2 linked regions of the Homo sapiens genome follow. The protein of the gene in region 2 purifies or fractionates together with the protein of the main gene of each other region. This does not show direct contact. Each region holds a gene or a part of one and is shown on either strand. Other genes may lie near its edges. The genes, in order: AGL and XYLB.

Evidence for each region.
Region 1: the proteins of XYLB (region 2) and AGL fractionate together in Homo sapiens (co-fractionation; one large-scale study listed by BioGRID). This does not show direct contact.

What each region holds. Positions count from the first base shown.
Region 1 is NC_000001.11:99,916,361-99,920,176, reverse strand, and holds part of AGL (glycogen debranching enzyme), read right to left. Parts: intron 3,768-3,816; coding exon 3,680-3,767; intron 3,580-3,679; coding exon 3,446-3,579; intron 1-3,445. UniProt on the Homo sapiens protein: Multifunctional enzyme acting as 1,4-alpha-D-glucan:1,4-alpha-D-glucan 4-alpha-D-glycosyltransferase and amylo-1,6-glucosidase in glycogen degradation.
Region 2 is NC_000003.12:38,345,146-38,349,061, forward strand, and holds the start of XYLB (xylulose kinase), read left to right. Parts: upstream 1-1,639; 5' UTR 1,640-1,723; coding exon 1,724-1,780; intron 1,781-1,787; exon of another isoform or gene 1,788-2,679; intron 2,680-3,401; exon of another isoform or gene 3,402-3,404; coding exon 3,405-3,487; intron 3,488-3,916. UniProt on the Homo sapiens protein: Phosphorylates D-xylulose to produce D-xylulose 5-phosphate, a molecule that may play an important role in the regulation of glucose metabolism and lipogenesis.

The sequences.
Region 1 (3,816 bases), on a different chromosome or scaffold from region 2:
TAGTGCTCTGTTACTGCAGCTCTAGCAAACTAACAGATACCAAAATTAAAAAACAAAATGAGGTTACAAAACCATGAATATGCTGCCCATAATTACACTTGGACACTAGGACATGGAATGTATCCATACAAATATAAGGAAGTCCCCTTTCCCTTGCTTTCCTGAAAAATTCATCCTGAAGTCATTAGGTGGGACAGAGCAAGGTAGGTGACCAGAAATGGAGGGGAAAGGGTAATAGGTAGTATGGAGCAGGATGTTAGAGTCCAAGAGGTATGAAGAGGGAGTCCACCAAGGGTGAGAGTGGTCCAGAGTGGGTAGTTAGAATCCAAGTGGTGCCAGGAGGGCTCCACACATAGAGGTGGCTTACTGTGGGGTAGCAGGCCCAAGCTGGGTGAGCAGACTCTATGTGGTGGTGATGGCCCAATGTGGGAAGTAGGTTATTCATTGTTGGAAAAGGGAATTACAAATATAGAAAGGGAGAAAAATAGAATTAAACACTGAGAAATAGCTTGGAACTGGTGTAAACTCAGGTTTTCAACACACATAGACAGGATACATTGAGATGAAGATAAGTGTGTATGTATTTACTTATGTTTATGTATTATTATATATTCCCTAGCCCTATCTACTGGGGGTCATAGTAATAATAAATACACCATGTGCTCAGATCTGGCTTCTAAATAACATTTTTCACTATAAAGAACAAGGGATCCTTAGAGAATTGCCCAATTCCAGGCTGGGGTAGTGAAAGTGAAAGATGAGTGTTGAAAACCTTGCTGGGCCAGAAAGCAAGGAAGGACTTCCATATGTGACAAACAGGAAGTAGTATGGACAGAATTTCCCTCCTGTCTGATACAACTGAAGAACTGGACATTAAGACATTAGACATTAGGCAACAAATAGCGATCCTTGAAGGATGAGAAACAAATGAAGCAAACCCTATGATTACCATACCTTACTGCCTTGAGAGTTTCCAGGATTTGGCACAGAGAGGGGGAACACAGGTGGAGCCTGGCAGACTTCCTTGAGTTGAACTGAGAATCCAGGAACACTACAAAGCAGCTACAATTTGCAGGATAGAGTACTAGAGAGGAAGGAGCTGTACAAAGAGAGAACTCTGAAGATATGCAGAGGGTCCCACTCAAGTATCTGTAGTGTACCAACCAGCAAATTCACAAGAGGAAACTACCAAAGAACAAGGAAAGAACCATCCAAAAGGATGAGAAGAAGCAGTATGTGGCACTCATACAGCGTCAGGAACACTTGCTTGTTCCCACCAGCCAGATTTGAAAACGTCATAATTTTCGAAATACAGGGTAGGGAACACAGATGGGTCTTGATTCACTAATGGAGAATAATTATTCCTAGACCAAATGCTATTCTGGTCAGGTCTAACAAGCTTAAAATCAAGACCAGAAAGGATCAAACTGTTTCCAAGTAATTTCACTGCATTCCAAAACAAAGCTCAAAAACATTTACAGAAACACCAAAAATCTAGCACCCAACAAGGTAAAATTCACATCTGGTATCTAATAAAAAATAACCAGGCAAATGGCTGGGTGTGGTGGCTCATGCCTGTAATCTCAGCACTTCAGGAGGCCGAGGTTGGGGGACTGCTTGAGCCTAGGAGTTCGAGACCAGCCTGGGCAAGATAGCAAGACCCCTGTCGCTCCAAAAATCAAAAAACAAAAACTACCAAGCAAAGAAGCAGGGTGATATGACCCAAAATAAAGAGAACAATCACAAGCAAAAGCAACCCAGAAATGAATTAGCAGACAAGGATATTAAAAGAGTCACTGTAATCATATTCCACATGTTCAAAACATTAAGCAGAGACATGGAAGATATAAAAACAGCCCAGATAAAACTTTGAGAAATGAAAACTACAACGTTGAAATGAAAAACACCAGCATGGATGTGATGGTAGGTTAGACATAAAAATGATGCAGATTTCTTATCAAAACAATGTAACCACCTTAAAGTATGAAAGAGAAAAAAGCTTAACTTTGAATTCTATACATAGTGAAAATATCTTTAAAATAAAGGCAAAACACAGATGTTTTACACTTATAAGAATTGAAAGAATTCATCATGAGGAGGCAAACACTACAAGACATGATGGAGAAAGTCCTTCGGGTAGAAGGAAAATGATACAAGATGGAGATACAGAACATCACAAACATATGAAGAGCACTGAAAATGGCAACTATAAGAGTAATTAGACTTTTTAATATATTATTTAAAGATCATTAAAACATAACTGACTGCCTAAACAAATGTAGTAACCATGTAGTGTGGGGGGTAATAACAGGTAAAAGCAAAATGGATGATGATGATAGCACACAGGCCGGGAGGGGAAAAATAAAACTATACTATTTTAAGGATCTTTATACCTTACTTGAAGTGGTATATCACTGGAAGGTAAACTATAAAGACATATACTATAAACCTAAAGCAGCCATTTTAAATAAACAAGAATTACATCTAATTAGCCAACAAAGGAGATTAAAATGAAATAATAAATATTCAATGCAAAAGAAGCACAAAAAGAGGAAAAAGCTAACAAAGAACAGACAGAATAAACAGACAACAAACATTTAAATTTCACAATTTCAGACCTTAAGTGTAAATGGTCTAAATATTCCAAAAGCAGAAACTGTTGTGCTACACGAGAGCAAGGCCCGATTACATGCTACTATGTACAAGAAAGCCACTTTAAATACAAAGACATAAATAGCTTAAAAGGATGGTAAAATCTGTACCATGGTGACAACCAAACAAAACAGACCAGGAGTGGCTCTATTAATATGAAACACGCAGAAGTCCCTTATGTGCTTGTAAGAAAGGAGATAAAATTTGTGCTGTTTATTCATTATCTGAGGAATAGAATATAGATATACTTAGGTATAATCTAAAATTTGAGGAATTAAGATACACTCTGAATTTATACTCTTATAAAGATACGTAACTCTGACACTGTCTATTTGCTAATAATTAGGACAAGGAAGTGAAAAATGTTTTTTGAACTAACAGGCAAAAGACCAGTTCTGATATTTTAACTATAATGAAAGCATTTCTGAAAACTATTTCTTGATATATCTTTAAATCAATTAACTCAAAAGGCCCAGGCTGAGTACCTTCAGTTTTTATATTTATCCTGTGCTAACCACATCCAAAAACATCAGGGAAATTTTAAAAATCAAAGACTATTCCACATGTATAAATCGCACAATATCAAGACCTCAACTTAAAATAAATAACAACCCAAAATAAGAGAAAGTGAAAATTATATAACAGAATTTGTCATGTTAAAGAATAAAGGCTTCACTTTTCATTGGGATACCTAGGGCATACAGAAATCAATTCTAAGAAACTGTAATTTACCTAATAGCTAATAAACTGACTAAACACTAGTTATGGAAATTACATGCTCCTGATGACTTACCTCTCAAGATGAACATAATGTCGGGAAAGAACATTTTTAACCAAAACTATAGTCTTTGCAGTAGTCTCCGGGCCCATCAATCTGGAAAAATATAATTTTGCACGAAGAAAATACCCAATAGGCCACAGCCACTCCTAAAAAAGATTATTTAAAAGACAAAAAAAACCATAAATACCTAAAAATTACTTGAAAAATAATTTAAACTGAAACTCAGAAGATAAATGAAATTCTTACAGGTCCTTGGTGATAATTGAAACCTTTAGCAAGATTGTAGTTGTCATTGTCTAATGCATTGTCATAAATTCCACAGTAAACCATATCACTGCAAAATGATTGAAATTTAAGTTAAATAAAAGATGATCAGATATTAT
Region 2 (3,916 bases):
CATGAGGTCGGAGTTTGAGACCAGCCTGACCAACATGGTGAAACCCCATCTCTACTAAAAATACAAAATTAGAGCCATACGCAGTGGCTCACGCTTGTAATCCCAGCACTTTGAGAGGATGAGGCAGGCGGAACACCTGAGGTCGGGAGTTCAAGACCAGCCTAACAAACATGGAGAAACCTCGTCTCTACTAAAAATACAAAATTAGCTGGGCGTGGTGGCGGATGCCTGTAATCTCAGCTACTCGGGAGGCTGAGGCAGGAGAATCACTTGAACCCAGAAGGCAGAGGTTTCAATGAGCTGAAATCACGCCATTGCACTCCAGCCTGGGCAACAAGAGTGAAACTCCGTTTCAAAAAAAAAAAAAAATTAGCTGGGTGCGGTGGTGTGCGCCTGTAATCCCAGCTACATGGGAGGCTGAGGCAGAAGAATCAGTTGAACCAGGGAGGTGGAGGTTGCAGTGACCGGAGATCACGCCACTGCACTCCAGCCTGGGTGACAGGAGTGAAACTCTGTCAAAAAAAAAAAAAAAAGTCATCAAGCAGTTAAGATTAGATTAAAATGCAGTAATCTAATCTTAATTAGATTAGATACTTAGATACCTTTATTTAAAATTTTTTAAAAGTGGAGATAATAGTACCTACTTCCCAGCATCATTGTGACGATTAAATGTGCTCAGCAGGTTGCATAATTGTTTCTGATCTAGCTAGTATCCAGTATTTGTCTATTGTCACAGGTGGTGACTGCTGGAGGGGCTGAGTCCCCAATAAGCTGTGAATGTCTTGGAGGACAAGTATGTTGGCCCCTTCTTGTTCTAGCAGTGAAGAGGATCCCATGTAGACTCCAAGCAGCTCAAGTTCAGCAAGGGAGACAGACCATTGCAAGTGCATGAAAAGGGCACTGGTGGGCTGGGAAGTTCGTAGGAGGAGCCTCTCACATGCTGGGTTTGGGGAGGAATTCTGGAAAGCAGTTAGTCTTAGGGACGGGAAGGATGTAGCTGGTGGGACAGGCGCCCTCAGCTCCATGAATAAAAGGAGTGGGTCTGACTCTGGTTCTCATTCCCCTTTACCATGCCTGGCACACATTAGACCATCAATACCAATTGACTCCAGGAAGGAGTGTCTCCCCGTGGGGGCATCAGGAGCCGCTGAGTTTAAATACACAGGTGGGATGTGACACACTGGGAACCATTCAGATTTGCTGGATCTGGATAGGGCTTGTCAGGACTCAGTGCTTCCAACCCCAGGGCCCATTTCCCTGTGGCCCCTGAGTCACCACCATGGGTGGACAGCTGCTCCAGTGCCAAGATACAGCCACAGAGGACGGCAGGCCCAGGGCCTCCAGAAGGACAGGCAGGCTCCCTCTGAAAGACAAGCCGGCTTATAGCTGAAACCTCTGGCCCAGGCGTCCTCTAAGGGAAGCCAGGCGGTGTCAGGGCACGGCCCATGAAGACATAAGATGAAGATGGGGAGAACCAGAGGGGGTGCGCTTCGAAGGAAAGCGGGCTGCGTGGGGGCACCGTCGATTGCACAGGACGCGGTCCCGGCTCGCGTAGCCCCGCAGGCGGCGCCAGAGCGCAAGCCCGCCTCGTGACTCCGGTCCACAGTCCGGCCGGGCGGAGCTAGGGGCGGGCCCCTGCGTCTCTGGGCGCTGGAGCGCGGCGACTATCACGCCGCGTGGCGGACGGACGGACTGACGGACGCGCAGCCTTACCCGAAAGGCCATGGCGGAGCACGCCCCTCGCCGCTGCTGCCTGGGCTGGGACTTCAGCACGCAGCAGGTACAGTCGCCTGGCCGCAGGGCCACGGGGCCGCCTCCTCCGCTTCGGTGGGGGTAGGGGGCGGGCTGTCACCCGGACGCGGGAAAACATGGGCCCGGCCGCGGGCGCGCCTACCTCTCGGGCTTCCCGGGGCCCCCGCGCCCCTGCCCTGCGCGCGGCCGTGGGGCGCCGGTGCCCTCGCCCGGAGATGCCCTGCCAATGCCACCCGCTCGCAAGATGCGGCCTCGACCCCGCCTGGACCCAGCTACCCCAGGAAACTGCAGGCGCTCCTCGGCAGGACCCCCGGTGCCCAGAGGGGCCGGAGGACTCGGCGGGTTCCTGCGCTGTTCTGGGCACCCAGTGACGGGGATCCGAAGGAAGTCAGCTACTGTAAGGCAGGGGAACAGACAGGCGGGTAGCCCTGCGCACATGCACAACCAGTGACCTGGAAGCAGATTATAGCCCAAAACCTTTTTTTAAAAATTGAAATGGCCCAGGCCTGGTGGCTCTTGCCGGTAATCCCAGCACTTTGGGAGGCCGAGGCGAGTGGATCGCTTGAGCCCAGGAGTTCGAGACCAGCCTGGGCAATATGGAGAAACCCCGGTCTCTACCAGAAAATACAAAAATTAGCCGGGCATGGTGGAGCACACCTGTAGTCCCAGTTTTTCTGGAGGCTGAAGCGGATCGCTTGAGCCCAGGAGGTGGAGATTGCAGTGAGCTAAGATGGCGTCACCGGTCTCCAGCCTGGGCGACAGAACGGGACCCTGTCTCAAAAAAAAAAAAAGAAAAAAGTGAAATGCATAGTGTACAAGTGGACTTTACCCTGTGACCGCCCTTCGTTGACACCAGCTTGCCTGGTCTGTGCACCCAGGACTGCTGGCCAGAGGAGCAGTGTGCTGCTGCCAACGCCCTGCAGACAGGCAAGCAAATCAAAATTTGCCTTCAAAGAGGGCATGGGGTGACCGGGGGCACCTTTTCCTTTAAAGTACTTGGGAAATATACACAGTTGCAGTCAAACCCCTCTTCTCGAATGGGTCAAGGGAGGCAGGCCTCTGGCCAGTCCTTGGGGGAACGTCCTGTGGGACTCTGGATGACTCGAGTTGCCTTGCTGGACCTCAGTTTTCCCATCTGTCCAGGAAAGGAGTTATACTCCCAAGCTTGGAGATTGCTTCAGTGGGACATTAATGTCTCTGGACCACAATCATGGCCTGTGAGAATAGCCCATGGCCTTGCCTGGTCTCAGGCCTCTGCAGACATGGATCCCCAGAGATGCCTCCAAACCTTGCTTCCCATTCCTTCCTCTCTGGCACTTTCTCCCGCCTCCTTGTCAGGTGCACGAACCAACTCATCTGTGAACATCTTCCTCTAGAGGGTCTTGGCTTTGGCTATTTGGGGAACAAAGATTCCTTGAGACATGTGGGTGTTCCTACTTAGCCTCAGTTTCTTCATTTTACTAAATCTTTGAGTGTTACCCCAGATGAGTCCTCTGTTACCACGATTACGGTGAGGCAGCCCTGCCTTCAAGGAGGTCTCTAGGTTGAACTGCTCCTAGGGTGTGGGGCCTCATCTGGTGACGTTAGTACCCCCTGGACCAGTGTAGAAGCTGAGGAAAATTCTACACTTCCTTTTTTAAAATGCCTTTCAGGTAAAGGTTGTTGCTGTTGATGCAGAGTTGAATGTCTTCTATGAGGAAAGTGTGCATTTTGACAGAGATCTTCCAGAATTTGGGTATGTACTTGATGTGCATGTGTGTGTGATGGGGGTGTTGGTTTTGGGGTCCTCCCGCAAACTTTTGTATTCGCAGACCGCACTGTTGAGGCTTTGCCAAATACAGGAGTGGTGGTCTCGGCAGACCTTTCAAGCATCTTTTTTTCCTATACCTAGAGTGCCATCTCCCCCATTTCTTCCTAATTCCATTCATCCATTCATGAAGTAAGCATCAGTTGAGACCTACTTTGTGCCAGGTGCTAGGACCTGATGGCGAAACAAAAAGAGAAAGCTCTCCCAGAGCTTCCCACTGAGTAGTGGAGACTGGTATCAAACAAAGAATCTCACAAAAGAGTGTTTCATTATAAACTCTGAGAAGGCCTCTGAAGGAAAGGAACTCACTTCTCCAAGTGCTTATTATAAAGGAATGTGACTCAGACTTGGGAGGGG